Regions from separate parts of the Homo sapiens genome. Here region 1 is linked to region 2. The links come from fine-mapping of genetic effects on gene expression. A gene starts in region 2. The other region holds a variant in brackets. All regions are shown on one strand. Distances are from middle to middle.

Region 1 (4,385 bases), 20 kb after region 2:
GGTTATGATGATGACGGTAATGGTAAAAATGGTGATGATGGTGGTGGTAATAGTGATGGTGTTGGTGATAATGGTGATAGTGATGGTGATGGTAATGATGGTGAATGATGGTGATGGTAATAGTGATTGTTATGGTGCTGACGGTGATGATGGTGGTGGTAATGACAGTGGTGGTGATGATGCTGATGGTGATGATGCTGATGGTGATGCTGATGGTGATGCTAATGATGGTAGTGGTGATGACGGTGGTGGTGAAGATAATGGTGATGAATGTCAGGGTGGTGGCCACTATTTATTGAGCACTTATTTTGTGCGCAGAGAGGTTATTAAACCAACTAGGACTCAGAGGTGTGCTGTGGTAGAGCCTAGACAGGAACCTGGGCTCTAGCTGCAGAGCCCACATGCTAAGCCAGAGTTGGCAAACTTTCTCTGTAAAGGGCCAGATTGTGACAATGTTTGGCTTTGTGGAGCATATAGTCTCTGTCACAACTACTCAACTCTGCCACCAGAGTGTGAAAGCAGCCATAGACAACACATAAACAAACAGGCATGGCTGTGTTCAATAAAACCTTCTTTACAAAAACAGAACATAGTTCTCTCAACTCTGCTTTAAGCTGTTGAACAGCCTGTGGTTTCCCTCTGCTTTCCAGCTTCAAGAGGCCTTCCTTGGTCACCTGCCTGACTCCAGACTGCTCCCTCACCAACTGGGCTGGCTGCCATGTTAAATCCATCCTCAAATGATAGAGATCCGCTACCAATGGCAGATTAGTTTGTTTACTTGCTGGTTCACTCATTCATTCGAATAGCTATTAGTTGCTATTATTATCAGTATAATAATTATTAGAAATGCTTATATTTGTTAAGAAATAATTATATGTTATATGGTATATTAATTATGATATAATTATAACACACATTATTAATAAAAAATTACTGTTAATAGGAGAACCATAGGTGTTGGGGTCAGATAGAGCAGTGTTGTGATCCTCATCCAAGGACTTATCAGCTGGGGATTTTGAGTAACTGACTTAATAACCTCTCTGTGTCTCAGTTTTTTCTTCTATATAATGGGCTGTTGGGGTCCCCACCCTGTCTTCCTTTCAGGACTGCCATTAAGAGTAAATGAAAAGGCATGCAGTTCTTCACCTGTGTTTGGCCTAGCCAAGGGCTGCACTGAAAGATGGTATTTATTACTACAGGGCATGTGTGTTGAGCTCCTGAATGAAGATGAGGCGTTTCAGGTGGGTTTGCCCCTACCCTGACTTGGCTGTGCTGTGCCTCCCTGCTTCCACAGGTGAACCTGTTCTCTGACCCACCCCAGCCCAACCACAGCATCCACACGGGAATGGTGCCCCAGGGGACCAAGGTCTTGTCCTTCACCATCCCACAGCCCCGCTCTGCAGAGTGGTGGCCGGGCCCGGCCGAGGACCCCCAGGCCTCTGCGGCCTCAGGTGAGTCCGGGAGAAGAGCTGCAGCTGGAGGCTCCTTCTGCCTGGGATTCTGCTCTGTGGGACTGACTTGGTTCACCCTGGGGATGGCGCTGGCCTCAGGCCAGGGGAAGGAGGGAGGCAAGGCCCCACCCTGGGCACTTTGACTCAAAAGGGTCAGAGATGTGGAAAGTGTCCTGCTTTGATCCACAGCAGCCTGGGGGCAGCCCTGGCCCTGCCACTTGGCATCTTGGTGACCCTGGGTGAGTTGAAAACATAGAGCATTGTCCCTGGGGAGCCCATATCTCAGCCAGGCCCTGTGCTAAGCCTTGACACATGTGACCTCACTTAATCCCCACAATAACCCGCTGAGGTGTGCACTGTTGTCACACCCATGACAGCCAAGGGGACCAATTGGAGAGGTGAGGACACGCTGAAGTTCATACAGCTATGGAGGGGAAGTGTCTGGATTGGAACTCACGTCTCCCTGTGTGAGAGCCCACGCTGTTGACTG[G/C]GAACCCAGAGGCCTAGCGTAGCTCTGCTCCAGCCAACCATGTGGCCTGGGGCAGATCTGGACCTTGTTCTCCCTTGTAAATGGGGGACAATGTTCTACCCAGCCCACTTCCTGGGGCTGATGTGAAGATCGCACATGGTGACTGAGCTATAACTTGATGATGGAGGTGGTGGCTTTGACGTTCAGCCTCAGTCCTTCAGCTCCTGGAAGGACTGTTCTTGGCCCCAGCTTTCAGCAGTTGTGTATTCCAGGGTGGCCATCAGCTCGAGGAGACTTGAGCCCCTCCTCGCTTACCAGCATGCCCACCCTGGGGTGGCTTCCGGAGAACCGGGACATCTCTGAGGACCAGTCCTCAGCAGAGCAGACCCAGGCACTGGCTTCTCAGGCCAGCCAGTTCCTGGCCAAGGTGAGTGGACTCCCAGCTTTGCCCCCGAGAGACTTAACTCACCTGGAGAACACAGAACCTCTGCCTGCTTGGGTGAGAGGCACTCTGGGAGTCTCACTTGTCATTCCCCTGCCTCTGCACCGAGTTAACTCAGCCATCCCCAAAACATGAGCCCCTCCCTGGTTTTAGAGGCCACACAGCTCCAGCCTCCTCCTTGTCACCAGTGCTAGGTCTCACCCCCCTTTTTGGCAATGCATCTCATCCAAATCCCTCCACTTGTGCTTGGAAGTGTCTCTAGGCTGGCTCCCGGGAAACTCTGAGCTCTTTCAGGATTCTGGAAGGGTAACAGAATCTCCACTCTACCTTTTCCTCTTCAGGATAAGTTGCCTCACTTTCTTAGTTCATTTTATTAAATAAATCAATTCCTAGTTACTTCTCAAGGGTCTTCGTATCTTCATGAAACAGTCCAAGTAACCGTGAATTGTTTGCAGGTCTGTTTATAACTGTACATTGGCTTTATTCCAGAAGTGGTTTAAAGCACCTTATGAAAATACATACGTTTTAGCCACATTCTGAAAACAGAAGTGAGAAAACTGGGGCAGAGAGGAAGTAAGGGTAGAAAAAAATAAAATACGTGGAGTGAGTAAATAAAATGTTCTGTTGGACCCTAAGCACATTAGAGTCACACATTTAGCTTTGAGCTTCCTAGTTGCCAATGCCAAAAGAGAAATGCAATAGTTACATGCACTACCATGCCCATAAAACAAATTCTTTCAGAAGCACCACCATTTTATTCTTCCCTTCCCTTCCCTCCTCTCCTCTCCTCTCCCTTCCCCTCTCCTCTTCTCTTCTCTCCTCCCCTCCCCTCCTCTCCTCTTCCCTCCCCTCCCATCTCTCCTTCTTTCCCTTGCTTTACTGAAATATAATTCACATACCATGCGGTTGACTCATTTAAAGTGTTTGCTTGCTTCAGCGGTTTTTAGTATATTTGCAGTTCTGCCACTATCACCACAGTCAGTTTTAGAACATTTTCATCACGCACTAAGAAACCTCATCTGTATTAGGCAGTCACTCCCCATCCCCTCTTTCCCCAGCCTCCGTCGGCTGCTCTTCTGCTTCCTGTCTTTATAGGCTTGCCTATTGTGGATGTCTCATAGCAATAGATTCACGCAATATTTGTCCTGTGTCTGACATCTGTCACTTACCATGATGTTTTCAAAGTTAATCCTTGTTGGAGTAGCACATACAAGTACTTCATTTCTTTTCTTCTTTTTTTTTTTTTTTGAGACAGAGTCTCACTCTGTTGCCCAGGCTGGAGTGCAGTGGTGCAGTCTTGGCTCACTGCAACCTCCGCTTCCCGGGTTCAAGCAATTCTCCTGCCTCAAGCCTCCCTAGAAGCTGAGATTACAGGCACGCGCCACCATGCCTGGCTAATTTTTGTATTTTTAGTAGAGATGGGGTTTCACCATGTTGGCCAGGCTGGTCTTGAGCTCCTGACCTCAGGTGATATGCCTGCCTCGGCCTCCCAAAGTGCTGGGATTACAGGCTTCGTTTCCTTTTGCCACCACCATTCTTGGTTCCGTAGCCGGAGACACATTTCTTCTTCGTCCTATATGTTGTCCACAAAATAAAGCAATGTCAAATCATCACACTGAGCAGGAGCTGGGGCCTTAGCTGACCCCTCATGTCTAGTGCTGCACGGTCCAATTCAGAAGCTGCTGGCCACATGTGACTGTTGAGTACTTGACATGGGCTGCTCTGAATTGAGACGTGCTGTGGGTATGAAACACATGCCAGATTTCAGAGACTTAGAAATATAAAGTGTCTCCCTATTTTTTTAGTATTGATTACATGTTGAAATGATATTTGGGGCTAAATAAAATATAAAAATTAATTTTACCTGTTTCTTTTTACATTCTCAATGTGGCTATGAGAAAATTATAGATGGTGTAGCTCACATTATAGTTCTATTTTATATATTATAAAATTATGTAATATGATTATATAATATACATTTCTATATTTCACACTGATCTAGAGCTTTCTTAAAACCGAACCT
Region 2 (4,385 bases):
GGTTATCCAGGGGCCACAGGCTATGCCCAGCAATGGCAGCCACCTGGGTTAATGCTGCCTGGGTTAATGACCAGGGAGGGAGGGTGAGTGAGTGACAGGGTGTCAGGGGAGCCCGCCCCTTGCACAATGGCACACATGGCCTCCAGAGCTGATAGGGAGGGGCCTCATTAGGGTTTGGCTCTGCTCCATGTGGGGCTGGGGGCTACAGGGAGAGCCCTGCCACCCAGATGTGGGTAAAAGGCAGGAAAGGGGATAGAGGGGTGGGCGATTACCAGGATGAGGGCTCCTGGTTCTAGCCCTGGCTACGCCAGATATTCACAAGCTGACCTTGGGAACGTCCACTCATTCATTCATTCATTCATTCACAGAACACATTCATCAGCCATAAACAGTGTGCCAGGCTTCAGGAAAGATATTAAGATCTAGCCTTTAGAGGAGACCAGAGACTTATACCTAAGTAGCAGCAATAGTTGTAGTAGCAATAATAAAATAGCTCAATACATGACTGTGTTCTGGCTCCCCCGCTCTACCCTTGGTAGGCATCATGTCATTGAATCTTTATAGCAGCCCCTGTGGGGTGGCTACTCTTCTTATCCCTGTTTTACAGATGAAGAAACTGAGGCTTAGAGACGTGAAGCCTCAAAGGTCAGGGCCAGCAGGAGATGGGGCTGGGATTTGAACCCAGGTCCACAGTGACTCTGAGATTTTTTTCTCTCCTACATGGGTGGTTCCCAAATCTGGCTGCTTATCAGAATTACCTGGAGGGCTTTTTGGACAATACAGAGGCCTGTTTTTTTTCCTCTTTCTTTTTGTTTCCTGACTCAGAGTCTCTGGGTCCTGGGTGGGGCCAGTGTTGGGAGCCTCTTGTGCTCCTGTGCCCGCTTTTCTGTGAAGCTCCTGCTTCTCCCGCTTGACTCGCTCTGCCCCGGGTACACAGGCCTTGCTGTTCTCAGGGAAAGCCCGCTGGCTCCCCCACCTTGGCCTTTCCACTTGCCCTCCCAGAACACTCTGCCCCAAACCTTCTTGTGGCTTGCTTTTGACCCCTCTTCCTTCCAGTGCCTTATTTGAATGTCACCTCCTCATAGAGACCTTCCTGACCGTCCTATAACCCTTCTCCTCCAACCCATTACTCTTGGCCCCATGTGTTCTCTACCAGGGCCAGTCACCTGGGACACTTAAAATGTCTGATGCCCAGAGACTGACTCTGTTGGCCTGGGGTGAGCCCCAGGCTTCAGTGCCACCTGGCCTGGGACACGGATCGTCACCCAGTCTCATTGTTCACAGCTCTCTCCTTGAAATTATACATGTGCTTGCTTATTGTCCATGTCTCTGCTAGAGTGGAGAGCAGGGGACTGGCCTGTCTTCGGCCCTGCCATATTCCCAGGTGATTTAAAAGCACCCGCCACACAGTAGGAGCTCAGTGAGTACCTACGAATGAAGGAATGGGATGGTGGGGCTTGAGGAAAGATAGCTCGACTGACCATCAGGATCGATCTGTTCCCAACATCTGGTGAACCCTTGGAGGGTTCTTACAACAAGGGAAAGTTTACCTGATCCGCCAGGTTCACACCTCCATGCTGCCCCGAACATCCCACTCTGGCTGCAGGACCACCTCGGGGTGAGGACGGTGGGTTGAGATGGCAGGAATCACCACGGTCTCCCTGAGATTCAGGTTGCACATTGGCAGAGTCAGAGCTGGAAGGGCAGGAGTGGTGTTGAGTCTGAGCTCTCACCGTGCACATGGGCCCTGAGGCCTAGTGAGGGAAGGAGCCTCGGCTAAGGTCAGGCCGTGGTTGAAGAGGGCCTAGAGGGTAGGAGCTACAGCATGCTGTGTGACCTTGGCCAAGCCTCTGACCTTCTCTGTGCTTTAGTCTCCCCATCTGTACCTGCAGGGCCTGGGCTGAGATGATCCCAAGCCCAGGACGTCAGGAGTTTGTTCCCTGAGTCCTTTCCTGGGCAGCGCTGACTGCGGAGGGCTTGCAAGGGGTTAAGCTCCTCCAGCTCTTGCTCTGCACGCAGACAAACCCCCTCCTTCTGACAAACACTTGTAGGAAATCAGGCTGGGCGCTTCCTGCCGAGGCGAGGCGGCCTCAACCACGGCAGGGGCGGGGAGAGGTGGGGAGCGATGCTGGTCTGTGAGCAGCAGCTTGGGCTGGCAGAACGGCCTGGAGGTGGGCCAGGGCGCAATGGAGACAGGGGGCTCCCTGGGTTTGGAACAAAGAATTCACAGGCAGGTCCCCTGAAACTGGGTCGGCAGGACGGTGGTGGAGCCCGAGAGAGGTAAGGGATTGGAACGGAGGAGGGCCCGGGAGGCCGCTTTCCTTCTGGACGGGCCAGTCACAGACTCTCCGGGACAGTCCAGGCAGCCGGACCAGCCCAGCCAGGAAGTTGCAGCTGCTGGAGCTGCACCGCTTTTCTCTTGGCTTAGGGGATCCCGGCCTCCAGGGCAAGGGTGGATTTAAGGAGGATTTCGTCAAGCCTCAGGATGCTAGATTCCAGTCCTAGCTCTGATTCTGATCTCTTGTGAACTTGGGTAGGCGGGTCCATCTCTGTGCCTGGGGTGTCGTCGTCTGCACCTGGAGAGTTAGTGTCCTTGGTTGCTAAGGGGTCTCAGAGACGATGCAGGCATGGGCAGCAGGCCAGGAGGCAGCGACGGCGCCGGGGGGTGGTCCCTATTGAAGGAGTGGCCCCTTATGCCAGCTGCGTAAGAGCAAGGAGAGGAGCCAAGGACAGTCCGAGGACCAGCAGACCCAGCTCAGCTCTTGAGGATGGCAAGACCAGAGCTGGCAACAGCCAGGGCACCGTTTCTCTTTCTCCTCGGCCTCTGCTGCTGGAGCGGGCTGGGGGCAGGGAGGACACAGAGAGGGAGTGGCTGGTGCTTCCTTGTGGGACTAGAGTCCACACAGCTGGTGGGAACCCCTTGAGAACAGCAAGTCTGTGCCCTGCCAGCAGGTGGGTGGGGGTATGGTTGAGCCTTTTTGGAAGGTCTGGTTACTGATTTGGGGGGTGGTCTTCCTTCCCCATCTCCCTGACACATCTGACAGCCTTGGTTTCAGAGTTGCGGTACCCCAGCTTTGAATCCTCTGTCTGCGCTTCCTGGCTGTGAGGTCTTGTGAGAGCAGGCCATGTCTCTGTGCCTCAGTGTCTTCATCTGGGAGGTGTCAGGGTGTGGGTGGGGGTAGAAGCAGGGTGGCACCCTGGACAGCTCTGGCTGGATGGGAAGGGGCTGCAGAGGGCACGGGGAGGCTGTGCGGGCTGCGTAGCTGTGCTGGCAAAGGAGAGCCTGGGCGTCTGGGCAGTTCTGAGGGATTGAGCCATAAAGGGAAGGGTCCCTGGCTGTGGAATGACTGAGCGGGCGGAGAAGCCCTGTGTGGGTGGTGGGGAAGAAGAGTCCATCCCACCCAGGAACTGAAGATAGACACCTCAGGGGTCTGTTAGACCCTTGAGAGAGCAGGGGCAGTGGCGGCTTGGGTGTAAGAAGGAGATGTGCAGAAGGAGGGTGCAGTGGCTGCTACTTCCTTGTGGGGCCAGTTTCTCCAGGGATGGCGGGGACCCTGAACTCCATAGCCCTCCCCAGCTCACACTGCTGGAGTCTTCACCAAACCCCACTCACTGCCTTTTAGGAGCAGCCCTGCTGCCCTAACGAGGGCTGGCTGGAACAACTCTGCCTTTATCTGGCATGCAGGGACACCTGCCCATAGCTCTCCTTCAAGGTCAGGCCATACTTTCAGACCTACGTGCCTTTGCCTCCGTGCTGTTCCCGCTGCCTGGAATGCCCTCCCCAGTCTTCTCCCCCAAATCCTCATTGTTTCTCAAGCCCACCTTAAAGCTTCCTTTGGTAACACTTCTGTATTGTACTACCCCCCACCGTTTAAAATCTTGGAACACTTTTACTCTTTTCTATATTCTTTGCATCTTACGTAGCGCCTGGTATATAGTAGGAAGTCATAGGGCTTTTTTAAAAAGTTAATTTGCGCCCACTGGGTGCTCAGTATGTATCTTTGTACTTTGAAATGTGACCTCAGGGAGGAGGAGAGAGGTTAACAGTTCTGAGGCTGTTGCCCTTAGAAGCTGAGTCAATCAGGGACTTCAAAGCTCTTTGAGTCCCATACCCTGCCTCCCAACCCACCCTAGCAGGGTGATATCCCCTTGCGATATCAAGAGCAGGTGGTACTTTCTCTATTTTACAGTGAGGAAAATGCAAGCCCAGCTATACACAGTGAGTAACAGCAGCCAGGACTAGCACCTGTCTCCTGATGCCCAGCCTGCTTCTCTATCACAGCATCGTCCCAGCCTGAGGTTGGCAGGTAGTTGGCACTAACGTGTGTTTGTTGACTGACTAGCTGACTGGCCAGTTCTGGGGCTTTGTGGTGAGGAGGGCCATG

What was found. PIP is the estimated chance that this variant, and not a neighbour inherited with it, causes the effect. A credible set is the group of variants that fine-mapping cannot tell apart.
Region 1: its variant is the best candidate, but not a certain one, in a credible set for the expression of AKNA in whole blood (TOPMed, PIP 0.76).

Annotation. Positions count from the first base shown.
Region 1 is chr9:114,365,505-114,369,889 of GRCh38, reverse strand. AKNA (AT-hook transcription factor) reads left to right here. Exons shown (of 22, transcript NM_001317950.2): 5 at 1,295-1,451; 6 at 2,193-2,347. Among named protein-coding and RNA genes, the nearest start is that of AKNA, 20 kb to the left of the region's middle. RefSeq lists enhancers at 112-816, 2,039-2,338, 1,810-2,758, 2,866-2,955, 2,976-3,035. The variant G/C (reference allele first, on the strand shown) is at 1,942.
Region 2 is chr9:114,385,755-114,390,139 of GRCh38, reverse strand. It overlaps AKNA (AT-hook transcription factor), which reads left to right and starts at 2,158. Exons shown (of 22, transcript NM_001317950.2): 1 at 2,158-2,280. LOC124902253 (a long non-coding RNA gene) reads right to left here and starts at 2,090. Exons shown (of 3, transcript XR_007061742.1): 1 at 1,887-2,090; 2 at 1,551-1,695. RefSeq lists enhancers at 1,866-2,155, 2,196-2,325, 1,796-2,531, 3,346-3,495, 4,266-4,325.